Linked DNA regions of Homo sapiens. The protein of the gene in region 3 interacts with the protein of the main gene of each other region in a pairwise test. Each region holds a gene or a part of one and is shown on either strand. Other genes may lie near its edges.

What was found.
Region 1: the proteins of SNRNP35 (region 3) and CCDC57 interact in binary tests that used the Homo sapiens proteins (3 or more experiments, as listed by UniProt).
Region 2: the proteins of SNRNP35 (region 3) and SBK3 interact in binary tests that used the Homo sapiens proteins (3 or more experiments, as listed by UniProt).
Region 4: the proteins of SNRNP35 (region 3) and CCT6A interact in binary tests that used the Homo sapiens proteins (3 or more experiments, as listed by UniProt).

What each region holds. Positions count from the first base shown.
Region 1 is NC_000017.11:82,100,937-82,104,847, forward strand, and holds the end of CCDC57 (coiled-coil domain-containing protein 57), read right to left. Parts: intron 931-3,911; coding exon 746-930; 3' UTR 534-745; downstream 1-533. UniProt on the Homo sapiens protein: Pleiotropic regulator of centriole duplication, mitosis, and ciliogenesis. Critical interface between centrosome and microtubule-mediated cellular processes. Centriole duplication protein required for recruitment of CEP63, CEP152, and PLK4 to the centrosome.
Region 2 is NC_000019.10:55,542,520-55,550,387, forward strand, and holds the start of SBK3 (uncharacterized serine/threonine-protein kinase SBK3), read right to left. Parts: upstream 3,025-7,868; coding exon 2,980-3,024; intron 2,718-2,979; exon of another isoform or gene 2,702-2,717; coding exon of another isoform or gene 2,582-2,701; intron 2,431-2,581; coding exon 2,280-2,430; intron 1,840-2,279; exon of another isoform or gene 1,784-1,839; coding exon 1,581-1,783; intron 1-1,580.
Region 3 is NC_000012.12:123,453,296-123,461,157, reverse strand, and holds the start of SNRNP35 (U11/U12 small nuclear ribonucleoprotein 35 kDa protein), read right to left. Parts: upstream 3,020-7,862; 5' UTR 2,942-3,019; intron 1,455-2,941; exon of another isoform or gene 1,270-1,454; coding exon of another isoform or gene 1,258-1,269; intron 1-1,257.
Region 4 is NC_000007.14:56,054,765-56,061,764, reverse strand, and holds part of CCT6A (T-complex protein 1 subunit zeta), read right to left. Parts: intron 6,401-7,000; exon of another isoform or gene 6,263-6,400; intron 6,142-6,262; coding exon 5,968-6,141; intron 5,455-5,967; coding exon 5,351-5,454; intron 3,773-5,350; coding exon 3,662-3,772; intron 3,404-3,661; coding exon 3,244-3,403; intron 3,146-3,243; coding exon 3,063-3,145; intron 2,222-3,062; coding exon 2,125-2,221; intron 1,497-2,124; coding exon 1,349-1,496; intron 1,296-1,348; exon of another isoform or gene 1,163-1,295; intron 959-1,162; coding exon 825-958; intron 19-824; coding exon 1-18. UniProt on the Homo sapiens protein: Component of the chaperonin-containing T-complex (TRiC), a molecular chaperone complex that assists the folding of actin, tubulin and other proteins upon ATP hydrolysis.

The DNA.
Region 1 (3,911 bases), on a different chromosome or scaffold from region 3:
GACTCTTGGAAGTGCTTTTTGGCGGGGTAGTGCAGTGTGTTCCGGGCGGACGGGCGTCAGTTTACGTGTGCGTTTCTCATCCTTGCAGGTACCTGGCCCCGGGCACTCAGGTGGCAGGGACATTTTGCTGTTATCCTTCGTGGGGGTGGACGTGGAAGGCCCAGCAGTGACCGCTGTCCCCGGTTGGCCCCCACCCTGCCAGCACCTGACATGCACACCCCAACCTGCATGAGGCCCAGGTGCCCACCTGGCTTCCAGGGGTCACCTTGGCCCGGTTCACTGGGATCCAAGGCTCTCACTCCTTCTGGGAGGGCCCCTCCCATGGTACTCTCAGGAGACGCCTGCTTTGTGGGTGGGCTTTCTGATCTGCCCCCTACCTGCTACCAGGCTCTGAGGAAGGCCACACTGTCCCCAACACCACTGGTGTGCAGATGGCTGTGGGTGGTGACACGGGCAGGCCAGGCTCTGGCACAGGCACTTGATACTGCATTTCCCAAGTAGGACAGATAAACAACGCTAAGGCCAAGCAGACGCCCCAGGGAGGAACCTGGTTTTAATGGGCCCTGTGCTCAGGGAGGCCTTCAGTCAGCAGGGTCGCCTCAGCAGCATTTGGGAGCCTGCCCTGCAGCTCCCTGCCTCCACCCTGCACGCTGTGCCCACACCCCCCCACAACACGTAGGTGAAAGCACAGGCACCATGCGGAGGCCCCGAGCACCCCTTAGTGGGGCGGGGTGGGGGGAGGAAGTCAGTCCATAATGTTGTAGTTACGGATCTTGGGGGGCCTCTGGCAGCCTTTAGCTTTTGCAGGATGAGACCGGGAGGCTCCTGTGGTCTTGGCCTTTGCCTGGGCTGCTGTCTTCATCCCTGGGGTGGCAATGCCTGCCTGCATCTTGACGGGCCTCCTGTCGGCTGCTGGAGGAGCTGGGAGCTCTGTCAGGTAAAGAGGAAAAAACAGCATGCATCAGGATGGCAGGGGGAGCAGGAGGCTGTGCTCACAGGCACTGCACAGGTGCAGCACTTCCGTGTTCCCGGCCAGCGGGGGCCCTGTGACCCTTGGCCTGGCTTTCCTCCAGGAGTCCGTGAAGGCCAAAGGATCCTGGAGTGACCAGAGAGCTGTGGCCTCGCCTTGCTCAGTGGGTCCTGCTTGGCAGGGACTGGGCCTGCCCCTCCACTGGGCACCTGGACATGTGGCTCTGAAAATGGTCCTGTTGTGACCATTTCGTAATGGGTCCCAGGAGGGGGCAGGGGTGCTGTGTGGTAATGGGTCCCAGGAGGGGGCAGGGGTGCTGGGGTAAATGGTTGACTCAAAGCTCCTCCCCCCAGGCTGCCCCGGGTGTCCCTACCATCTGAGACACATTGCCTGCCCCCGCCTCCCCGATGGGCCAGCAGTGCCAGGCTTTTGAGGCCAAAGGAAAGGCCGTGCTGGTGGGCACCACGTGGCCAGGCACAGGCCAAGGGCCCAGGAGTGCGCTACACACAGAGGCTGGGGCCTAAATGCCAGATAGCCCTTCCTAAACATCGGCTAAAACCATCTTCGCAGAGGGGTGTTGTAGGTGATCTTCTTTATCTGGCCAGTTTTTCTCTATTTTTCATTTTTTCAATTAAGAATGTGGGGGTTTTTTTTGGTAAAACAACAGCAAAATGTTACTAAAAATCCATGCAAGGGCTGGGCTTGGTGGCTCACGTCTGTAATCCCAGCACTTTGGGAGGCCGAGGTGGGTGGATCACCTCATGTCAGGAGTTCAAGACTAGCCTGGCCAACAATGGTGAAACGCCGTCTCTACTAAAAATACAAAAAATTAGCCGGGCACGGTGGCGGGCACCTGTAATCCCAGCTACTTAGGAGGCTGAGGCAGCGGAGTCGCTTGAACCCGGGAGGCAGAGGTTGCAGTGAGCCGAGATTGCGCCACTGCACTCCAGCCTGGGCGGACAAGGGCAAACTCTATCTCAAAAAAAAAAAAAACAAAAAAAACCCCACAGTAAGATGTGAGCTCAGCGTCCACTGCGTGGCCACACTGTGGCTGGGGTGAGGTCTAGAGGACTCCAGCACGTGGCTGAATGTGGCCCAGTGGGCAGTCTGGACAGGCTGACCCAGGCAGGTCAGCGGGCGGCCAACGCCTCCTGCTGGAGCCCAGCCTGTGTGGTCTGCGTGCAGCCTGGGTGACTGGGAAGCGTCTGTGCTTTGGGGACACCGGCAATGACGCACTCTCAGCTGGGCTGCGCAGTGCCCATGGGGGCAGCCACACACTCCCAGCCCTGGCCCTGGGCCCCTCTTCCCATCTCAGCTTCTTCCACTCCGATCCACTCTTGGGGTCTCAAGACACCCGGAACCAGTCTTCCTTTTCCTGCAGCCCCGTTGGGGTCACACAGTCCCTGGCCCCCTGCTGGGGTCCTGGGGGGCCCTGGACGCTGCCTGCTCCCTTTGTTTCCAACCCCCAGAGGAATTCCTCCTCTTCACACAAAGGCTACCACCCTTTATCTCTCAACAATAAGCCTGCCTGACCTCCTGGTCCCGGCCAACGCCCCCATCCCCACTCCCTCCCCCCACCCCCCACACTGGCTGGCAGAGGGTGGGGTATCCCGTGGAAAGGGCTTCCTGCGGGGAAGCTGGTCCTCTGACCAGGCCCTAGTGCTCCACTGTGACCCTGAGGCATCTCCTCAAACCCAGAGGCCTTGGTTGTCCCTCTGTAATGCTCAGGGATTCTGGGGGCTTTGCCCGGCTTGATCCTCCTCAGACAAAGCCTGTGGGGATTTTCAGAAAAAGTGAGCTGAGGGAGGGGGGTGAAGGGCCTGCCCCTTTGCCTGGGAGGCCTGAGCTGGCCCTGCTGGGAGGACCCTGGCTGTATCCCGGGGCGAAGCAGGGAGGTGTGAGTGGGTCACAGTCCCCGGGGCAGGGAGGGGCAGGGAGGGGCAGGGAGGGTGAGCTGGCCCCCTCCCCAGGGCAGGCCGGCCCCTAGCTCAGAATATCCACTTTACAGGCTCTGGTTTCTTCACTGGTCCTTTTCCTGCGGAGCCCTCCTCAGTGATGGTGGCAGGGAACTGGCCATGAGCCCAGGACCCCAGGGCAGCGGACAGCCCCAGCCCAGCCAGTCCTAGGTCAGAGGCACGGAGCTGGATGTGTCAAGGCGGCTGCCCCAGGCGTGACTCCCTGTGACCCCGGATTCTTCTACCTGATGCTAATCTGAGGTCAACCCAGTAACTGGTGTGTAAAAACGCTCTTGGCCTCCACCACTCTCTGCCCCGCCTTCTCGCCTGACCTGTTTTGCCGAGCCTGGCCGGGATTTCTCTTTCTGCGTTGGGCTGACTGGGCCGCAGGGAAACCATGTGGACACACAGTTTGCCGGGCACAGCGTGAGGAACGCGCCTCTTGGGTCCTGCACCCCTCCCCCACGGGCTGCTTGTGCTCTGGCCCCGAACTGAGCTTCTGGAAAGTTCCTGAAACATCCAAGGCCTTGCAGTGATTAACCAGGGGAGGGGGACTGGGGCCTGCTTGCCCCTCCCAGGCTTAACCCCTCCCAGGTCCTGGTGTGTGCTGAGGCAGGGCCACCCAGGCTGGGCTCCGTCCCCTCAGGCGGCTGCACCATACTTGGAGGGTTTTTTAAATTTTTATTTTTATTTTTGAGACGGAGTCTCACTCTGTCGCCCAGGCTGGAGTGCAGTGGCGTGATCTCAGCTCACTGCAAGCTCCGCCTCCCGGGTTCACGCCATTCTCCTGCCTCAGCCTCCCGAGTAGATGGGACTACAGGCGCCCGCCACCACGCCCCGCTAAGTTTTTTGTATTTTTAATAGAGACGGGGTTTCACCATGTTAACCAGGATGGTCTCGATCTCCTGACCTCGTGATCCACCCACCTCGGCCTCCCAAAGTGCTGGGATTACAGGTGTGGGCCACCAAGCCCGGCTTGGAGGTTT
Region 2 (7,868 bases), on a different chromosome or scaffold from region 3:
CATCCACCCATCCGCCCACCAATCCTTTCATCCATCCATCCATCCATCCACCAATCCTTCCTTCCGTCCATCCATCCATCCGCCCACCAATCCTTTCATCCATCCGTCCATGCAGCCATCCACCCACCCATCCATCCACCAATTCTTCCATCCACCCACCCACCTATCCACTCAACCAATCCTTTCATCCACCCACCCACCTACCCATCCACTCATCCATCCATTCACTCACCCACAAAACCTTTCATCCATCCATCCACCCATCCATCCACCCACCAATCCTTCCTTCTATCGATCCATCCATCCATCCATCCATCCGTCCATCCACCCACCAATCCTTCCTTCCATCCATCCATCCACCCACCAATCCTTTCATCCATCCATCCACCCCTCCATCTACCCACCCACCCATCCATCCACCCACCCATCCATCCATCCATCCACCCATCCATCCATCCACCCACGGATCCTTCCATCCACCCACCCACCCGTCCACTCAACCAATCCTTTCATCCACCCACCCACCCACCCATCCACTCATCCATCCATCCACTCACCCACCAAACCTTTCATCCATCCATCCACTCACCTACCAAACCTTTCATCCATCCATCCATCCACCCACCAATCCTTTCATCCACCCATCCACCCACCCATCCATCCACCCACCCACCCATCCATCCATCCACCATCCATCCATCCACCCACCCATCCATCCACCCATGGATCCTTCCATCCACCCACCCACTCATCCATCCATCCATCCACTCACCCACCAATCCTTTCATCCATCCATCCATCCATCCATCCATCCACCCACCCACCCACCCATCCATCCACCCACCCATCCATCTACCAGTCCTTCCTTCCACCCATCTATTCACCCACCCATCTGTCCACTCACCCATCCTTCCATCCTTCTAATTCTCAATGAGACTCATTTCTCCACATGTACCTTCCTCATCCCCTTCCTTCTTTTATTCCTTCCATTTATCCCTAACTTTATCTCAAATCCAAAATCTATTCCTGAAACTATCCCTACCCCTAATCTCCAAACTCGAGAGACCCTAGAATATCATGGGTTCTGTCCTGACCTGGTCTCCTTTCTAGAAGAAACCCCATTATAGCCCATCTCCAACTCAGTCTATATACACATCCTCAACCGTCTCTGCTTCTCTCTGCAGCCCATTCATGCTTTTCTCCATACTCACGATGAATCTATAATCAACTCTAAACTCAACCCACCCAACTCCACCCATGCCCACACCCTAACCTCAGAGTCAACTAAAATCCCAACCCTGTCTCCCTCCCCACCCCCTTCATTGACTCCAGTCCATCCTCAATCCCACCCCCAGCTCCCTGCCTTTCCACGATTGTGTTTGGGTGATTGGATGGATTAGGGTTGAGGTCAGGCATGGAACCTCGTTGAGAATTAGAAAGGGGGAGGTCATGTGGGGGCTCAGGGTGGAGATGGATTGGGCGGGCCCTGATTTGGGGTCAGAGTTGGAGACAGAGACGGGGCTTGGGACAGAGTTGGACCTGGGATAAGCACTCCCAACCTTTGTCCCTCGTGGCCTCACCCTTTCCTGCAGCATCCCGCTGAGGTCCCCACAGGGCGCGTACTCCTGGGCGAAGGCAAAATAGCGGGGGGTCTGTAGGGGTCCTGCCAGGGTCTGCAGCAGGCCTGGGTGTGCAGAGACGCAGCGGCCCACACAGAACTCCCTCAGGAAGGTGCTTCTCAGGACCAAATCCCGACGCAGGAGCTTCAGAGCCACAGCTGGACCTGCCAGGGAGATGGGTCGGAGGGACACTCAGGCGGCTCCAGTCCTGCTGTGGGGCCTGAGGGAAGCCGTGTAAACTCTCTGAGCCTCACACTTCTCATGGGCAGCACGGGCTCCCCTGTCTGTGAAGTGTGGGTGGGAGGAGACCTTCTTTGAAGACCCTCCCTGCTCTGCCTCGGACTGCGGCGTGGGCTTGCACAGCCGCCTCACCCTCTCCGGGCCTCAGTTTCCCCTGGCATCAAGTAAGAGACACGGTGGTGACTTGGGTTCCAACTTGAGTTGCATACCTGTCCTGCTGTGGGACCGTAGGCAGTCCCTCGCCCTCTCTGGGGTGGGGCCTGTGTTTCTCAGAAGATCCCAGAGCTCTTAACTTTCAGAGTACCCCCACTGAGAAGGGTCCCCATCAGCTCCTCCTGGGAATGCCCCCTGTCTGGGTGGCTTCCGAGAATGCTTATTGTGGGGCAGTTGGGGAGGCTGCCCTTGGGTGGCTGAACTCACCCCCCTGGTGAGGCTGGGCAAGGAGCACGCGGCCGTAGGAGCCGGAGCCCAGCTTCCGGATGAGGTGGTACTGGTCCCGAAGGCTCCTCACCGGGGTCACCCTGCTGGTCGTCAGCTCCACCAGCCGTTGGAGGGCTGTGGCTGTGTCCTCCTACGGGAGAGGGGCAGGGTGAGGAGGGGGCGCGTCTGGGGTCCACTGAGAGTGGTGGGGGAGGAGGTCACGGCGCAGCCCCAGGATGGAGGGTGGGGCAGGGGACAGGGGTCACTGTCCCCAGAGAGGAGGATGAGTCACAGTGACTCACCCGGACTCGGGCCACCTGTTTTTGTGTCCTGGAGAGGTTAGGGGTCACTGCCACAGAGGCCCCGCCTGCCCCTGTCTGTGGGAGCAGGCCAGGAGCCCCCAGCCCCGAGTGGGGGTGCATCCTCAGCCCACACAGTCCCCCTGCCCACCCTGGTCTCTCTCTCCACCGTCCTCTTCCCCTGTGCATCCCGCTGTGTGTTTCTGAGTCCAATTCTCTGGGGGCCTTGGTCTCGCTGTGTGTCCTTGGATCTCTGTCATCCTCTCTCCCTGGGTCTGGGTCTCTGAGGTCTTTGCGTTTCCCTGTTTTCTGTTTCTCTTCCTCTCTCTCCCCGTGTTGCCTCCTGCCTCTCTCTCCTTCTTTTCTCTCTCTGTCTTCCTCCCCTGGCTCCCGTCTCTCACCTCTGGGTCCCCATCCTCAGGGGTCTCGGAGGCCCTGCGCTCCATCTCAGGGCTTCCTGATGTGGGGTGGCCCTTGGGCGGGACCCCCCCGTCAGGGCTCCCCAGAAAGCAACCAGCCCCCTGCACCCCACAGGTTCTCGCTGCGCAGAGCCAAGGGATGGAAGCTCGTCTGCAAGGTCAGCCTCAGTCGCCCCTTGTCTGTCCGGCTCTGTCTAGCTGGAGGAGTGTCTCTGCCTCTCTGTGCCCTCCTGCCACCCTCTGGGTGTATTCCCTGCTGTGCTTCCCAGGTGATAGCCCTTACTCCCCACACCCTCTCTTCCCCTCTCTTTAGCCAACCCCAGTCTCTCCTTCCTTCTACAGGAACACCTTTCTGTCAGCCTCTCTCTTGCTCCGTCTATCCTCTCTCTTTGTGCGTCTTTGTCTCCTTCTCTCCCCGTCTCTCTCTCTCCACCCTCCCTGTCTCTGTCTCGCACTTGGGTCTCTGGGGTGGGACTCCCCCTCCCTGTCCCGTCTCTGTGGGTCGCCGGCCCCTCTCCCCTGTCCGCACACTGTCTCCACTCTTTCTCCACCAACTCTGGGGGTGTCTCCACGCTCTGCTCCCTGCCTGCTCCCCTCTCTCTGTCTGTCTGTTTCCCGTCTCTCCCGGCCCCTCTGGGCATCTCCGTCCGCTCTCCCCAGTGTCTCTGCGTCTCTCTCCTCCTCTTTGTTCCTGACTCTCTCTCAAAGCCTTTGTCCCTCCCTTTCTCTGGGCCTGGGACAGGGGTGTGTGTGACAGCTCAGAGACAGAGACATCCTGTCCCCCCACACCCCTCCCTCACCCCCTCTGACCGCTGCCCCCTCCCTCTCCCTTCCAAACTTAGACCAGCTTGGACTCTGGGCTCCAGTCCCAGGACAGACGGGACAAAACATATTGTGAACCCCCAACAAGGCCCAGGCCTGAGGGCAGAGGAAAGGGTGGGACAGACCCCTCCACACACCTGAGCTGGGATGACTGGCCCAGAGCTGAGCACCTCTGTCTTGCCCCAGAGGCCAGGAGCGCTGGTGTCCAGGGACCAGGGAACAGTTCCCAAAGCCCTCCTCCTTCACACCAGGAGTGCTGGCCCCAGCTCCTCCTCCCTCACACCCAGGAGTCCAGGTCCCCAGTTCCTCCATCCTCAGACCCAGGAGTCTAGGCCCCAAGCCCCACCTCCCTCAGACCCAAGAGTCCAGGCCTCCAGCTCCTCCTCCCTCAGATCCAGGAGTCTAGGCCCCCAGCCCCTCCTCCCTCAGACCCAGGAGTCCAGGACCCCAGCCCTTCCTCCCTCAGACCCAGGAGTCCAGGCCTCCAGCCCCTCCTCCCTCACACCCAGGAGTCCAGGTCCCCAGTTCCTCCATCCTCAGACCCAGGAGTCCAGGCCCCAGCCCCTCCTCCCTCAGACCCAGGAGTCCAGGTCTCCAGCACCTCCTCCCTCACACCCAGGAGTCCAGGTCCCCAGTTTCTCCACCCTCAGACCCAGGAGTCCAGACTCCAGCTCCTCCTCCCTCAGACCCAGGAGTCCAGGCCCCAGCCCCTCCTCCCTCAGACCCAGGAGTCCAGGCTCCCAGCCCCTTCTCCCTCAGACCCAGGAGTACAGACTCCCAGCCTCTCCTTCCTCAGACCCAGGTCCCCAGCCCCTCCTCCCTCAGACCCAGGAGTCCAGGCCCAGCCCCTCCTCCTGCAGGACTCAGGAGCTGAAGTAGCTGTGGGAAGCGCCAGGGACAGAGGTGCTCTCATGTTCTCAGCACCTGTTCCGCGCCTAGCCCTGTGCGGGGCTTTACACTGGATCCTCCCAGCTGCCCAAAGGGTCAGTATTTATCCCCAGTTTACGGAGCAGGAAACTGAGGTTCCGAGAAACGATCGTGTTACACAAGGTCAGAAGGGGAGCGGGCCCCGGGCCAGGCCTGTGTGACTCAGAGGCCTGCTGCCTGCCCCACTCGTGTTTCCACTACTACTACAGCCCTGCTATTAATAAAGACACAGCAACGGCAGCGACGCGTAGGCGCTGGAAGGATCTGCAGGAAACAGGCTGTGGCGCTGGCCTCTGGGGAGCTGGAAGGGACCCAAGGAGGGGCAGAGGTAGAACTTCCTTTGCTGTTCGGAGGTTAGATTGGGGAAAGTCGCAAACCTACAGAAAAGTAGAAAAAGTGCTGTCCGTGCCTGTAGTCCCAGCTACTGGGCAGGCTGAGGCAGGAGAATCGCTTGAACCCAGGGAGGCGGAGGTTGTGGTGAGCCGAGATCGCACCACTGCACTCCAGCCTGGGCAACAGAGCGGGACTCCGTCTCAAAAACAAACAACAAACAAACAAACAAATAATAACAACAAAACAAAAACAAACAAACAAAAAAGTGCTGTCATGAACACCCATTGGCTAAACTTCACAGATGTGGCCACTTGGCCATACTTTCTTGATCTTTATTTCTTTGTCGGCGGGGGCATACAAACTAGTTTCAAGTAAATGATAAATATTGAAGTCTTTTGGAAGTGGAAATGCTGAGCTGCCTGGTGTGTTTGCTTTAAAATCATCTGGCCGGCTGGGCGCGGTGACTCACGCCTCTAATCCCAGCACTTTGGGAGGCCGAGGCGGGCGGATCACCTGAGGTCGGGAGTTCGAGACTAGCCTGAACAACATGGAGAAACCCCGTCTCTACTAAAAATACAAAATTAGCTGGGCATGGTGGTGTATGCTTGTAATCCCAGCTACTTGGGAGGTTGAGGCAGGAGAATCACTTGAACCCGGGAGGCGGAGGTTGCGGTGAGCCAAGATGGCACGATTGCACTCCAGCCTGGGTAACAAGAGCAAAACTCTATCTCAAAAACAAACAAACAAAAAAGTCTGGCAAAAGAAAAGAAAATGTGTGTGTGTGTGTGTGTGTGTGTGTGTGTATGGGGGGGTGGTGGGTGGGTGGTGAGACAAGTGAGAGGGAAGGGACTCATTTTATTCCTCTGTTTCTGGTTATGCTGGAAATTTTCCTTCATGAAAAGCTACAAGTTATAAACTAAACTACAGGCATTGTGATGAATTGTGCCCAAACATTTGAGAGTACCTATCTGTAAAAGTAAGGAAAATTTCTAGCTCAGCTACAGTAAAATTGTCATAATGACTTTTTTAACAAAATTGAAGATGAGGCCAGGTGTGATGGCTCACGCTTGTAATCCCAGCACTTTGGGAGGCTGAGGCGGGCAAATTGCCTGAGGTCGGGAGTTCGAGACCAGCCTGGCCAACATGGTGAAACCCCATCTCTACTACAGATACAAAAATTACCCAGTCGTGGTGGCGTGTGTCTGTAATCCCAGCTACTCAAGAGGCTGAGGCAGAAGAATCGCTTGAACCCGGGAGGCAGAGGTTGCAGGGAGCCGAGATGGCGCCACTGCACCCCAGCCTGGGCGACAGAGCGAGAGTCTGTCTCAAAAAAATAAAATTAAATTAAATAAAAAATAAAAAATTTAAGATAGGGTCTTGCTGTGTTGCCCAGGCTGGTCTCAAACTCCTAGGCTCAAGTGATCTTCCTACCTCGGTCTACCAAAGTGCTGAGAATACAGGTGTGAGCCACAGTATCCAGCCCAACAATTTCTCGAAATCAGATAATAACAAGTCTGTCTTCAGTTTCTCACATTTATTTTTTTTTAAATGCCTTGGCTGGGCGCGGTGGCTCATGCCTATAATCCCAGCACTTTGGGAGGCCGAGGCAGGTGGATCACCTGAGGTCAAGAATTCGAGACCGGCCTGACCAACAAGGTGAAACCCCCCTCTCTACTAAAAATACAAAAATTAGCTGGGTATGGTGGCAGGTGCCTGTAATCCCAGCTACTCGGGAGGCTGAGGCAGGAGAATTGCTTGAACCTGGGAGGTAGAGGTTGCAGTGAGCCAAGATGGACCACTGAACTCCAGCCTGGCGGCAGAGTAAGACTCTGTCTCAAAAAAAAAAAAAAAAAAAAAAAAAAAGAAAAAAAAATGCCTTATTTGCTTTATGAGTCAGGAATCAACGTCAACATCCCGTATGACTTTCAGGGAACTTTTTACCACTGTGCCTTTTACATTATTTGAATTTTTCCTGTGAGTATGTGTTATTCAAAAAATTTTAATGAAATAATACAGTGATGATGATACAGTAATATAGTAACACTCGGTGCTTACTTGGTGCCAGGCCCTGGTCACGCTCTCTCGGTCTCTCTCTCTTTTTCACTTAAGACTTTGTGGAGTCCTCCCAACAAGCCCTGGGTCGGTAGAATGATGGTTTCCAATTTCCTGATGGGGACAGTGAGGCATGAAGCAGCAGAGTCATGGGCCACAGAGCCGCAGCCAGGGAGAGGCAGAGCTGGGATGCCTTGAGATCTGGTGACTCCAGGCTCCTCTGTGCCCCCTGCCCACGCAGCTCCCGTGAGGCCGACCTCAGGTGCCCGGCCCGGCTCGAGCTGAGCTCCTCCACTGGAGACCCGGGGCTGGCTGTGCGCCGACAGGCAAGCGCATCTGCTACCCTAGAGCCGGCCACCTGGGTCCCCCGGGAGGAGAGTGAGAGGGGACGCTGCGGGCCTCCAGCCCTCCCCCAGACGCTCGCTGGTGATCCGAAGAGCTTTGCACCTCCCCATTTAGTAACGCCGCTCTGCGGGGTCACCCGGAGTGACCTCGGCACGCAGGTGTGGTGGGGGAGGTTGCAGTCCTGCAGCCCCAGGGTACACACACACCCCTCATTAAAGCTGGGCGGTGTGCCTCTCTCCTCCCCTCCGTCCTGCCCACCAGCCTCCGAGGCCTCCTTTTGTGACCGTTTCCTGGCTTTGTCCCCTCCTGGCCGAACGAGGGCACACAAGTTAAGTGTGTTAACAACAACAGCAATAATAATAGTGTCCAACACTCATACTGTACTCGGTGCT
Region 3 (7,862 bases):
GGCGACAGAGCGAGACTCCGTCTCAAAAAAAAAAGAAAGAAGAGGCTGGGCGTGGTGGCTCACGCCTGTAATCCCAGCACTTTGAGAGGCCAAAATGGGAGGATCCCTTGAGCCCAGGAGTTCGAGACTAGCCTGGGCAACATGGGAAACATGGTGAGACCCTGTCTCTGTTTTTAAAAAAAAAAAAAAAAAAAAAAAAAAGGCCAGGCGCAGTAGCTCACGCCTGAATCCCAGCACTTTGGGAGGCAAAAGTGGGCAGATTGCCTGAAGTCGGGAGTTCGAGACTAGCCTGACCAACATGGAGTAACCCCGTCTCTATTGAAAATACAAAATTACCCAGGCATGGTGGTGCATGCCTGTAATCCCAGCTACAGAAGGCTGAGGCAGGAGAATCGCTTGAATTTTTTTTGAGACAGGGTCTTGCTCTGTTGCCCAGACTGGAGTACAGTGGCACAGTCATGGCTCACTGCAGCCTCTCCCACCCTAGCCTCCTGAGTACCTGGAATTACTCACTATGCGCCACCATACCCAGCTTTTTTTTTTTTTTTTTTTTTTGTAGAGATGGGGTCTCACTATATTGCATAGGCTGATCTTGAACTCCTGGGCATGAGCTATCCTTCTGCCTCAGCCTCCCAAAGTGCTGGGATTACACATGTGAGCCAGCGAACCCAGCCTGTACTAACCTCTTAACTCCTCTCACTTCTCAACAATACCAGGACTTAGGTACTATATTATTATTGCCTTTTCAGATGAAAAAGGTCAGACACAAAAAGGCAGCCTGTGCCCCAAATCCTAAAGCTAAGAAGTAGCCCAGTGGAGGAGTTAGAACCAGGGGCAGTGTGGACTCCAGAGCTAAAGCTCTTAATCGTTTCCTCTGATGCTTTTCATAAAATATAAGGTTTTGGAGATAAAGATAGGAAAAAGAAAACACACAAACCAGTATTCTGGGTGTCTGAGGCTGAGACCCACCCCTCCTCTCCTGAAGGAAAAGAACCCCTCCCCATTCAACGTTAAAAAGTCACAAGGGGCCCGGTGCAGTGGCTCACGCCAGCAATCCTAGCACTTGAGGAGGCCAAGATGAGCGGATCATTTGAAGTCAGGAGTCACAAGGATCTACCAAATAAAACTGATATTATTGTACACAGAGCTCCTGTTCAAAACTTTAAGACTTCTTCAAATTAAAATGGAGGAGAATTACAAACGGATAAGCATGGATTTTGTTCTCTCTCTCATCTGCATGCTTCTATAGATACTAACAGCTGGTTTCATTGTTTCTCATTAATCTTTCTAGGTGCACTTCCTCCCCGGCAGCATTAGGTTGAGATTTCCTACAACAATCTCTTTCGATTTTTACATTCTCTTTTTTTACTCGAGACAAAGTCTCACTCTGTCACCCAGGCTGGAGTGCAATGGCCAATCTCGGCTCACTGCAACCTCTGCCTCCCAGGTTCAAGTGATTCTCCTGCCTCAGCCTCCCGAGTAGCTGGGATTACAGACACACACCACCACGCCCAGCTAATTTTTGCATTTTTAGTACAGACAGGATTTCACCATGTTGGCCAAGCTGGTCTCAAACTCCTGATGTCAGATGACCCGCCTGCCTCAGCCTCCCAAAGTGCTGGGATTACAGGCGTGAACCACCGCGCCTGGGCCTCATTCTCATTTTACTCATCAACAGGGGATGAGAGCCGAAATGAATGGTGGGGGCCAGGGCGCGGTGGCTCATGCCTGTAATCCCAGCACTTTGGGAGGCCAAGGCGGGTGGATTATTTGAGGTCAGTAAATTTTGAGCTTCAGGATTCTTATTGTGAAATGTAGCTAAATGTCACTTCACTAGGTTTTTGTGAAGATTAGATCATATGGTGTCTATAAAAATGCATTACAATTATAAATTATTATACAAATTTAGAAAATTTTTGGCCAGGCACGCGCTGGCTCACGCCTGTAATACCAGCACTTTGAGAGGCCGAGGCTGGAGGATCGCTTGAGCCCAGAAATTCGAGACCAGCCTGGGCAACAAAGTGAGACCCCGTTTCAATCAATCAATCAATAATCAATTCTCCGGGCGTGGGGTCGCGCCTGTGGTCCCAGATACTTGAGAGGCTGAGGCGGGAGGACTGCTTGACCCGAAATGTCGACGCTGCAGTGAGCCGAGATCGCGCCACCGCTCTCCAGCCTGGGCGACTCCCTGTCTCTGGGGAAAAACAAAAAAATAAATGAAGCCTCTCCTTCCTGGGTCTTCGGGGTAAGACTCTGCCCCTCCTGGCCGGGCACGGTGGCTGACGGCTGTAATCCCAGCACTTTGGGAGGCCGAGGCGGGTGGATCACGAGGACAGGAGATCGAGACCATCCTGGCTAACATGGTGAAACCCCGTCTCCAGTAAAATACAAAAAATTAGCAGGGCGTGGTGGCGGGCGCCTGTAGTCTCAGCTACTCGGGAAGCTGAGGCAGTGGAATCGCTTGAACCCAGGAGGCGGAGGTTGCAGTGAACCGAGATCGCACCACTGCACTCCAGCCCGGGCGACAGAGCAAGACTGTCTCAAAAAGGAAAAAAAAAAAAAAAAGACTTTGCCCCTCCTGTGAAAAGCAAAACTGAAGGCGGAACCCACAGAGCCCTCCAGGGCATGCGCAGTGGGCCTCGGAGGCAAACACCTAAGTTTCTGTGGAAAAGCCTATCCTTCCCATCCAGCCTGCAGCCTGGCCGCCAACCCTCGAGGCCGCTCCCCCGCCCCTCTCCTTCTCTGGGGGCCGCAGGGAGTAAGGCGCCATCCTTCCAATCCAGCTCTCGTCCCCACTCCCCGCAACGCAACCCAGAATGTCGTCCCCTTTGCCAGGTTTCAACATGGCGCCCCACACAAGCGCGGGCACAGCGTCTGGGCCGCACTCCCTCTTCCTTCTCTCCGGCGTGGGGCCCGCTCCTTCCAAGCCGCTTCCACTCACCTCTGCAAAGCTTGGGCTCCCTTCCGACGGAGACAGGCGAGCAGCTGCAGGCGACAGCAGATTCTCCGCGCCGGCCTCGGCCTGACCTTTACATTGGTAGCAGCAGATTCGCCGCCGACGCTCGTTTCCTGTTTGTTTTACCTTTAAAATTTTACTCCCACGCAACGAGGGTGTTATCATCTCCGAAGACAATAAGCTAAAAAAAAATTTTTTTAAGAGAAAAATTGCTAATTCAACAACTAAGTTGAAAGAAAGACTATCGAATATGCAGTTACCTGGGACATTTTACTTTATTATTTATTTATTCTTATTTATTATTTTTTCTTGAGACGGAGACTCCCTCTGTCGCCCAGGCTGGAGTGCAGTGGTGCGAACTCGGCTCACTGCAACCTCCGCCTCCCGGGTTCAAGTGATTTTCCTGCCTCAGCCTCCCGCGTAGCTGGGATTACTGGCGCCCGCCACCACGCCCGGCTATTTTTTGTATTTTTAGTAGAGACAGGGTTTTGCCATGTTGGCCAGGCTGGTCTCGAACTTCTGACCTCAAGTGATCCGCCCGCCTCGGCCTCCCAAAGTGCTGGGATTACAGGCGTGAGCCATCGCGCCCGGCCCCAATTTCTTTATAAAAAAAAAAAAAAAAAAAAAGGCCAGGTGGCATGCCTCACGCCTGTAATCCCAGCACTTCGGGAGGCCGAGGCGGGCGGATCACCTGAGGTTCGGAGTTCGAGACCAGCCTGAGCAACATGGAGAAACCCCTTCTCTACTAAAAATACAAAATTAGCTGGACATGGTGTCATGTGCCTGTAATCCCAGCCACTCAGGAGGCTGAGGCAGGAGAATCACTTGAACCCGGGAGGCAGAGGTTTCGATGAACTGAGATGGTGCCATTGCACTCCAGCCTGAACAACAAGAGTGAAAGTCCGTCTCAAAAAAAAGAAAAATCTATAGCTTAAAATTTTATGTTTGAAAATATATGGTAGCCACTGTCAGTGGAGGCCATCTGCAGTTTCAGCTACTAGGGAGGCTGAGTCGTGAGGCTTGAGGCCAGGAGTTCAAGTTCAGCCTGTCAGCCTGGGCAACAGAGCAAGACCCCTATGTTGTTGTTTGTTTGTTTGTTTTTGTTTTGTTTTGTTTGAGACAGAGTTTCACTCTTGTTGCCCATATTGGAGTGCAATGGCACGATCTCGGCTGACCGCAACCTCCGCCTCCCAGGTTCAAGCAATTCTCCTGACAGCCTTCCGAGTAGCTGGGATTACAGGCATGTGCCACCATGCCCGGCTAATTTTGTATTTTTAGTAGAGATGGGGTTTCTCCATGTTGGTCAGGCTGGTCTTGAACTCCCGATCTCAAGTGATCTGCCTGCCTTGGCCTCCCAAAGTGCTGGGATTACAGGCGTGAGCCACCACACCTGGCTGACCCCTATGCTTTTAAACACACACACACACACACACACACACACACACACACACACACACACACACACGTGGTATGTACAGTACATGCAATGGAATACTATTTCTCCTTAAAAAGAAATGAAATTCTAATTGCTACAACATCATGAATGAACGTAGTTCATGGATGAACCATGCTAAGTGAAAGAAGCATAAGGACAAATACTGTATGGTTCCACTTATATGAGGGACCTAGGATAGTCAAATTCATGGTTGGAAAGTACAGCAGTGGTTATCAGGGGCTGCTGTGGGTGTTAGGAAGATGGCGAGGTATTGTTTAACAGATACAGAGGTTCAATTTGAGATGATGAAGAAGTTCTGGAAATAGATAGTACAGATGGTTTCACAACAATGTGAATCTACCTAATGTTATTTAATAGTTAAAACAGACTGGCCGGGCGAGGAGGCTAAGGCCTGTAATCCCAGCACACTGGGAGGCCAAGTTGGGAGGATCACGAGGTGAGGAGATCAAGACCAGCCTGGCCAACATAGTGAAACCGCATCTCTACTAAAAATACAAAAATTAGCTGGGTGTGCTGGCGGGCACCTGTAATCCCAGCTACTTGGGAGGCTGAGGCAGGAGAATAGCTTGAACCTGGGAGTCAGAGGTTGCAGTGAGCCGAGATTGCGCCATGGTACTCCAGCCTAGGCGACACAGCGAGACTGCATCTCAAAAAAAAAAAAAAAAAAAAAAAAAAGAACCAGGCACGTTGGCTTACGCCTATAATCTCAGCACTTTGGGAGACCAAGGAAGGCAGATTACTTGAGGCCAGAAGTTCAAGACCAGCCACGCCAACATGGTGAAACCCCATCTCTACTAAAAATACAAAAATTAGCCAGGTGTCATAGCGCGTGCCTGTAATCCCAGCTACTCAGGAAGCTGAGGCAGGAGAATCACTTGAACCCAGGAGGCGGAGGTTGCAGTGAGCCAAGATCACGCCACTGCACTCCAGCCTGGGCGACAGAGCAAACTCCGTCTCAAAAATAAATAAATAAATAAATGAAAGTACAGTGGAAAAGGTAAATTTTATGTTACACATACATTAAAATGTCTGTGTACCCTGGTAGCAATAAGCATAACCTAGCACCCGGATCTTGGTTTCTGATATCATTCTCCAATGAAAGTAACCAGTGCTCCTTGGAGAAATAGCTGACTCTAGAACTGGGACAAAAAAATACACAAGAAGCCTGGGTGCAGTGGCTCACACCTGTAATTCCAGCACTTTGGGAGGCTGAGGCGGGTGGATCACTTGAACTCAGGAGTTCAAGACCAGTCTGGGCAACATGGTGAAACCCCGTCTCTACAAAAAGTATAAAATTAGCCAGGCCTGATGGTGCACGCCTGTACTCCCAGCATCTCAGGAGGCTGAGGTGGGAGGATCGCTTGAGCCCAGGAGCTTGAGGCTGCAGTAAACTGAGATGGTGCTATCACACTCCAGCTGGAACGAGACCCTGTCTCAAAAAAATAAAAAATAAAAAATTCGCCCAGTCATGGTGGCTCACGCCTGTAATCCCAGCACTTTGGGAGGCCGAGGCAGGCAGATCGCTTGAGGTCAGGAGTCCAAGACAAGCCTAGGCAATATGGCAAAACCGGGTATCTAATAAAAATACAAAAATTAGCCAGGTGTGATGGCACACGCCTGTGGTCCCAGCTACTTGGGACCCTGAGGTGCAAGGATCACTAGAACCCAGGAGGCTGAGGTTGTGATGAGCAGAGATTGCCCCACTGCACTCCAGCCTGGACGACAGAGCAAGACTCTGTTTCAAAACATAAATAAATAGGCCAGGTGCGGTGGCTCACACCTGTAATCCCACACTTTGGGAGGCCGAGGTGGGCGCGGATCACCTGAGGTCAGGAGTTTGAGACCAGCCTGGCCAACATGGCAAAACCCCGTCTCTACTAAAAATACAAAAATTAGCCAGGCGTGGTGGCAGGCACCTGTAATCCCAGCTAATCGGGAGGCTGAGGCAGGAGAATCGCTTGAACCTGTGAGGCAGAGGTTGCAGGGAGCTGAGATCGCGCCACTGCACTCCAGCCTGGGCAACAGAGCGAGACTCTGTCTCAGTAAATAAATAAATAAATAGAAATACACAAGATGATCTTGAAGCAACTTGTAGTACCAGAAAGTAAGGTAGTGCTAAAAATGAAACACCCCACCAATGATGATGATGTCACAGGGAGTGCTGAACCAACTGAAAGGACTCCTAATGGCCAGAGTGGAAACAGTATGAGCAACAAAATACTGTAAATTAAGTGGTACTGGATTATAACCCAAAACATAAAATAAATATCCGCCAGGCACGGTGGTTCACGTCTGTAATCCCAGCACTTTGGGAGGCCGAGGCAGACGGACCACCCTGATCTCAAGGAGTTTGAGACCAGCCTGGCTAACATGGTGAAACCCCGTCTCTACTAAAAATACAAAACTTAGCCGGGCATGGTGGCAGTCGCCTGTTAATTCCAGCTACTCACAGGGCTGAGGCAGGAGAATCGCTTGAACCTGGGAGGCAGAGGTTGCAGTAAGCAGAGATTGCGCCACTGCACTCCAGTCTGGGCAACAGAGTGAGACTGTGTCTCAAAAAATAATAATAATAAAATAAATATCAGGCCAGGTGCGGTGGCTCCCACCTGTAATCCCTGCACTTTGGGAGGCCAAGGAGGGTGGATCATGTGAGGTCAGGAGTTCGAGGCCAGACTGGCCAACATGATGAAACCCTGTCTCTACTAAAAATACAAAAAATTAGCCGGGCGTGGTGGAGGGTGCCTGTAATCTCAGCTACTCAGGAGGCTGAGGCAGGAGAATCGCCTGAACCGGGGAGCAGGGAGTTGCAGTGAGCAGAGATCGTGCCACTGCACTCCAGCCTGAGCGACAAAAGCGAAACTCCGTCTCAGGAAAAACAAAACAAAAAAAAATGCCAGGCACAGTGGCTCATGCCTGTAATCCCAGCACATTGGGAAACCAAGGCAGGCGGATCATCTGAGGTCGGGAGTTCAAGACCAGCCTGACCAACATGGAGAAACCCCGTCTCTACTAAAAATACAAAATTAGCAGGGCGTGGTGGCGGGCACCTGTAATCCCAGCTACTCAGAAGGCTGAGGCAGGAGAATCACTTGAACCCGGAAGGCGGAGGTTGCAGTGAGCCGAGATCCCGCCATTGCACTCCAGCCTGGATAACAAGAGCGAAACTCCATCTCAAAATAAATAAATAAATATCCACCAGTCCCTACTGATATAAATAAGTGATTGAATAAATAAAGTGGGGAGAAGAGGCAAATCTTCCACGCAAAATTGCAAATAACTTATGGAGATAACTCCTCTCCCCAGAAAGTAGAGCATGCCTAGGCAACATAGTGAGAACTCATTTCTACAGAAAAACAAAACAAAAAAAAGAATTAGACCAGGCACGGTGGCTCACGCCAAAGCAGGAGGATCACTTGAGTGCAGGCATTCAAGACCAGCCTGGGAAACTTA
Region 4 (7,000 bases), on a different chromosome or scaffold from region 3:
AGAGTTCTGAGCAAGAACCTAAAGTAAACAAATTTAATTCTTGAGAAAACAGGAACTAATAACTGATAGTAAAAAAAAAAAAAAAAAAAAAAAAAAGAAAAAAGAAAAAGAAAATCTCGGCCTGGTGCAGTGGCTCACGCCTGTAATCCCAGGACTTTGGGAGGCCGTGGAAGGTGGATCACCTGAGGTCAGGAGTTCGAGACCAGCCTGGCCAACATGGTGAAACCCCATCTCTACTAAAAATAAAAAAAAACCTGGCCGGGTGTGGTGGCAGGTGCCTGTAATCCCAGCTACTCGAGAGGCTGAGGCTGCAGTGAGCTGAGATCGCACCATTACACTCCAGCCTGGGAAACAAGAACAAAACTGTCTCAAAAAAAAAAAAAAAAAAAAACTCATTGCATAAAGACAGAACATTTATGTTCCCTTCAGAGAATACCAGACACAAGTTACTGATCAACTCTCTCAACTACCCCAAACCCAGCAGCAATACACCAGTCATAAATTATATATCAAAACTGGTATATAATAGAAAACAATGATATCAGTTTAAAACAAAAGCAAAAAGCAAGTTTGTACTCAAGTATAACCCCTAATACTGCAAATATTAAACTACAGGTTATCTCTTGCCATCTGCAATGTCAGCTATTCAGGCTTCCCAGAGAAACCAAATATATCTGGATGATGAGGAATACCTGTTCTAGAGTCAGAAAGAAAACTGATCAAACTTGCTTATCCAAAATCCACTTTATGAATAAATCCTACATTATCAGAAAGGTTTGATCAGCTGAATCTTTTGGAAGATTGACTGTTAAAAGCATGCACACCTTGGGAATAATGAGCAATGCATCAGCAAATGCTTGGACTCCAAGCTGTGCCCTGCCCTTTACACTGGGCTTATGTTTAATCAGGGCTTCTGCCATTGCCACTTCCACGGCACCAGCACCTGGAACCACACAGCCTGTTGGATGGGGGAAAAGGAAAAATGCTAAGAAAACTGCAGAACTAATTATGAATAACAAAATATACATATGAAAGCCATTAATTTCTTACAAATTTACTATGACAAAATACAAGTGACTAACATACCAAATAGGAGAATGGTTCAACCAGAATGGCTTCACTAGCCACTGGCAGCTTTCAACAGATCAGTATTAGTTCATTTATTTGTATTCACCTTTAATAATGATATGCTATGAAAAACCTTAGCATACCATCAGTCATTCTAAAGGGAAGACTGCTTTTGCATGGTGTCTGGCTGTGTAAACTACTGATAAAAACACAGTATTCGGCCATGCCTTTCAGACCAGCAAAACAATATAAAAGAATTGAAATACAGTGAGGATCTTACCATCATCAATAGCATTTTTGACAGCCCTCAAGCCGTCCCTCACTGCATCTTTGATCTGAGTGAGTGTGTGCTTATTTGGTCCTTTGATCAATAATGTGACAGAACGAGGGTTGTTACATTTCTCAATAAAGGTAAACTTCTCTTCTCCCTATGTGTAGAAAAAATATGATTTTCAAAAACAGGATTTGTGCAGAGTGAAGAGAGAAGAGGGACTTACAGAGAATGACAAGTAGCATATTAATAAGGAACAAACTTGATCACATTAAAGCAAATTATCTCCTTTTGAAAAATCACATAAAAGAAATGTGATTTTCCCCATCAATGGCTTCCCATTACTACACATAAACCTTCAAAATGTATATAAACAAAAATCTGATCCTGAATTTCAATTAATTTTTCTGCTAAAGACTTCATGAACCAGGCACGGTGGCTCATGCCTGTAATCTCAGCACTTTGGGAGGCTGAGGGTGAAGGACAGCCTGAGCCCGGGAGTTTAAGACCAGCCTGGGCAACACAATTATGAACCTGTTTCTACAAAAATTACCAAGAAAAAAAAAAATTAGCCAGTCATGGTAGCACACACGTCTGTGGTCCCACCTGCTCAGAAGCCTGAGGCGGGAGGATCACTTGAACCCAGGAAGATGAGGCTGTAGTGAACTGTGATCACACCACTGCACTCCAGCCCGGGCAGGAGTGAGACCCCACCTCAAACAAACAAACAAAAATAATTCACGAGCTAAAAGGTTCTATTACCTTTAAGAAAAAAATACACTTACCAATGTATACTCATATACAAGTCCTGCATGTCCCAAGCAGTCAGGACTTAGGTCGTCAAAAGAATTCAGGGCTACCCCACCACAAGCAAGAGTCAGCCTGAAATAGCATTTTAAGGGAGATGGATAAGCAACGTTACCAGTGAATTTCAAAGATAAGACCAGTAATTTTTAGGAAGGAATTTTTCAGAATTACACACAAAATTAAATTTTAAAATGTACTTTAAGCCTTTCCATTTGCCATCAACCAGCTAAAAACTAGTCTTTTCTCTTAACCCTCCATTTAAACCACTCTCCCCAAGTTAGCAAATGAAATCTAAAAGGTGGACAAGAGCTCTTTATTAGCCAGGCATGGTGGCTCACACCTGTAATCCCAACACTTTGGGAGGTTGAGGTGGGTGGATCACTTGAGGCCAGGAGTTTGAGACCAGCCTAGCTAACATGGCAAAACCCCATCTCTACTAAAAAAACACAAAGCAATTCAGTGGGCATGGTGGCAGACACCCGTAATCCCAACTACTCGGGAGGCTGAGAATCCTATGAACCCAGGAAGTGGTAGTCGCAATGAACCAAGATCATGCCACTGCACGAAAGAGCAAGACTGTCTCAAAAAATAATAATAAAAAATTTTTAAAAAAAGCTTTTTATTGTGGGGAGCTCTTTGGAAAAAAGTATATTGAATTCAGAAACAAAAAGTAAAATAATGTTTACAAGGGGCAAGGGGGAGGGAGAAATGGGGAGTAACTATTTAATGGGTATACAGTTTCAGTTTGTGATGATGAAAAAAGTCCTAGAGATGGACAGTGCTGACGGGGTGCACAATGTGAATATAGTTAATGCCAATTAACTATACAGTTGAAAAACCCAAAAATAAAGTATAAGGAAAAAGAAATAATCCCAATTCACTTGCAAAATGAGTAAAAGTCAAATTACTCGGATACCTCTCCATATTTCTCCTTTTAGCTCTGCGCAGAGCAACTATGCCTTCTTTTGAAAGAGCATCTAAGGAAAAGGGGTCAATTCCCTGTAACAAAAATAAAAATTAATTTCAACATCTTTCACCTTAAAAGTAAAAAGGATGATACGTACTATTTAGTTTATACATTGAGTTTTCATTCTCACCTTTTGATTAATAACAACAAATCCTTTATCTGAATCGCCACAGACTTTCCTTTTCAGTTCTATTATTTTTTTAACCCTATCTTCAATGAATTTTCTTTCAGCTTTCACGAGTTTTTCTCTCTCTTCTGCACTCTTGTAAAAAAAGCCAGAATTCACTTCTCTATTAAGAAAAAAAAAAGTTACAGAAAGCAGGGAAACATTAAGAAAGCAGCTTCTGAAACTGGATTAGTCCTAAGATTTAACAGTTCACTGAGCTCCAATCCTGCCCCTTATGCATCTTCAGAGACTGTTTCCTATAGCTCCCCCAAACCAATTTGAGCATTATTGTCCTTACAGTGGGAAACAAAGTTTCACAAAAAAGTAACTCGCCTAAAATACGAAGCTTCTCCATTTCACTGTTAAGGGGCTATAAACTTACGTTTTCTCATACTCTAATGACACGTTACAAGTGAGGATGTATGCATCCTCCACCCTTTTCTTCATATCAGGATGCCGTGCTCCGTGGTCCAAAACAAGCCCTCTGATTAAGCTGTTTAAACACACACAAAATTATGGTTATTGATTTTCAGATGGGTATTTAATATATTAAACACTGAAATGAGAAGGTATTGATATTTCACGCAGTCACATTTTTCTTTTTTGAGATGAAGTCTCGCTCTGTTGCCCAGGATGGAGTGTAGTGGTGCCATCTTGGCTCACCGCAAGCTCCACCTCCTGGGTTCACACCATTCTCCTACCTCAGCCTCTCAAGCAGCTGGGACTACAGGCACCCACAACCATGCCCAGCTAATTCTTTTGTATTTTTAGTAGAGACGGGGTTTCACCGTGTTAGCCAGGATGGTTTCGATCTCCTGATCTCGTGATCCGCCCGCCTTGGCCTCCCAAAGTGCTGGGATTACAGGCATGAGCCACTGCGCCCGGCCTATTTCTTAAATTACCTGAAGATCCTACGCTGTACAGAAAAGTCTGCAGAGATGGTCTCACTGGTAGGCTGTCAAACTGTGATGACGTCCTTTAAAAACATGTTTTCTACCAAGCACCTGTAATCCCAGCACTTACGGAGGCAGAAGTGAGAGGACACCTTAATCCCAGGAATTTAAAACCAGCCTGGGCAACATAGGGAGACTCCATTCTCCACACAGACACACACACACACACACCCCAAAGGGAAAACAAACATGTTTTCTAACTAACTCTTTGAAAAAAATATTTTTTTAAATTCCTCTACTACTTCTCATTATGCTTTGTACCTAGCAATTCAATAAATGCCAAATGACTGATGTTGTTCACTTTTCAGAATCATTCTAACCATAAACATAACATTCACCTTATTTCAGGAGAAAATATTACTAAAAACAATATTCTCCTAGCAGTTTATCCAACTTATATCTTCAGGTAAATATATAACATTTTATATCCAAAGATATTTTTAAAATTGCCATCTCACGCCTGTAATCCCAGCACTTTGGGAGGCCGAGGTGGGCGGATCACGAGGTCAGGAGATCGAGATCATCCTGGTTAACATGGTGAAACCCCGTCTCTACTAAAAATACAAAAATTATCCGGGCATGGTGGCGGGCGCCTGTAGTCCCAGCTACTCGGGAGGCTGAGGCAGGAGAATGGTGTGAACCCGGGAGGCAGAGCTTGCAGTGAGCCGAGATCATGCCACTGTACACTCCAGGCTGGGCGACAGAGCAAGACTCCATCTCAAAAAAAAAAAAAGCCAACTATCTATATTGTACAAAGCACCCCTAAATTTCTAAACACAGTTTATTTTTTGTTTTTGTTTTTTTTTTAATGGGACGGGGTTTCGCTCTTGTCACCCAGGCTGGAGTGCAATGGTGTGGTCTCAGCTCACTGCAACCTCCGCCTCCCAGGTTCAAGCTATTCTGCTGCCTCAGCCTCCCGAGTAGCTGGGATTACAGTCATGCCCGGCACGCCTGGTTAATTTTTGTAATTTTAATAGAGACGGGGTTTCCCCATGTTGGCCAGGCTGGTCTGGAACTCCTGACCTGAGGTGATTTGCCCACCACAGCCTCCCAAAGTGCTGGGATTACAGGTGTGAGCCTCCATGCCCATTAGTATTTCACAGTCTTCTACCACCTACCTTGTATCAGTTTCAGATTTATGTTTCATCTCCATGATCTCAATCATGAAGAGATCAATAGGTTCATCTTGCTTTTTAATGGCCAAAATGGAGTCCACTACAGCCTGCAATTGGAGGAGCATAACCGTTAAGTAAATTCAATTTGCAGCAGAAACATGTTGCTTTTCAGAAGGCTAAAGTAGGCAGTTTCATTTTACAATTCTACACTGATTTAAGTCTTTTTCTATCAGCAAATAGAATACATTATATGTAAAAGGCAACAGCTGAAGTCATTTACATTTCTGAAATCTCCATCTATAATTCCCAAACATTAACATTAATTAACATTAACATTCCTCGTTTTATTAAAAATACTGGTAACTGGAAGCTTTCTAATAAAAAAATCTCCACTTTATAAACCTTTTAATGAAAGCTTCAATTTTACTTTTATAACCTGGTTAGGTATACTATTATTTTAATTTCCTCATTTTTAGAGACACAGATTAGGTATCATTGCCACAAAAATGAACCTACACAGCACCTTGTAATTGAAATTGGTAATCATATTCATGTTTCTACTATCAGAGATTTTCTATATAGGTATACTATACCAGACATAGACAAAATTTAATACATACCTCTGTTAAGACATCTGCAAGTTCAGCATGAACTTTAGTACGAAGAGATGTTCTGGCCACATCTATAAGTGTTTCCCTGTCCATCTCTCTGCTTACTTTGACTTCTTCCAAAAACTGAAGGGCCTTTTCCTTTGCAGCTTCAAATCCTTCAGTGATTATTCTAGGATGAAGGCCCTAAAATAAACACACATTAACACTTGCATCTTCAATTAGGTGCAACCATAGTTCATGATAAAGTTCAGGTAATTATTGAAGGAGTGTTCTGGATCATCATACCTTTGAACACGAGGTAATATAATGTGCTGGCTTTCTGAATACATTTAAAAGGACAAATATTCCTTTCAATGCAGAGCAGATGAACAGGTAATGAATGCTCTAGCACAGGGTCAAAGCCAAGGGAACTATAAAGCACACTTGGGTGTTCACTGTGCAAACCACTCTGAATCATTTCAAAACCAACACTGTGTCCCAACAACTCACAGATGGTAGCATTATCCTATCTTTATTTTCTTTCATTTTTTTTGAGATGGAGTTTCGCACTTGTTACCCAGGCTGGAGTACAATGGCACAATCTCGACTCACCACAACCTCCACCTCCTGGGTTCAAGCAATTCTCCTGCCTCAGCTTCCCAAGTAGCTGGGATTACAGGCATGCACCACCACGCCTGGCTAATTTTTGTATTTTTAGTAGACACGGGGTTTCTCCATGTTGGTCAGACTGGTCTCGAACTCCCAACCTCAGGTGATCCGCCCACCTCGGCCTCTCAAAGTGCTGGGATTATGGGCGTGAGCCACTGCGCCTGGACTATTCTATCCTTTCTATAGGTAATCTCAAACTAACTCACATCATTTACTAATAAAAATAAAGACTGTTCTCTTTCTCCAGGAAATTCTGACAATACATTCATATTCACTGAGGTTTGCTTTAACCTTGGAACTAGTCAGGGCTAAAAAAGTGGAATTTATCCAAATATAAGCTTTTGGTTGCCTTTTTCCTAACAAATATGCCTAGTCCTAAACATTCCATTTTTAG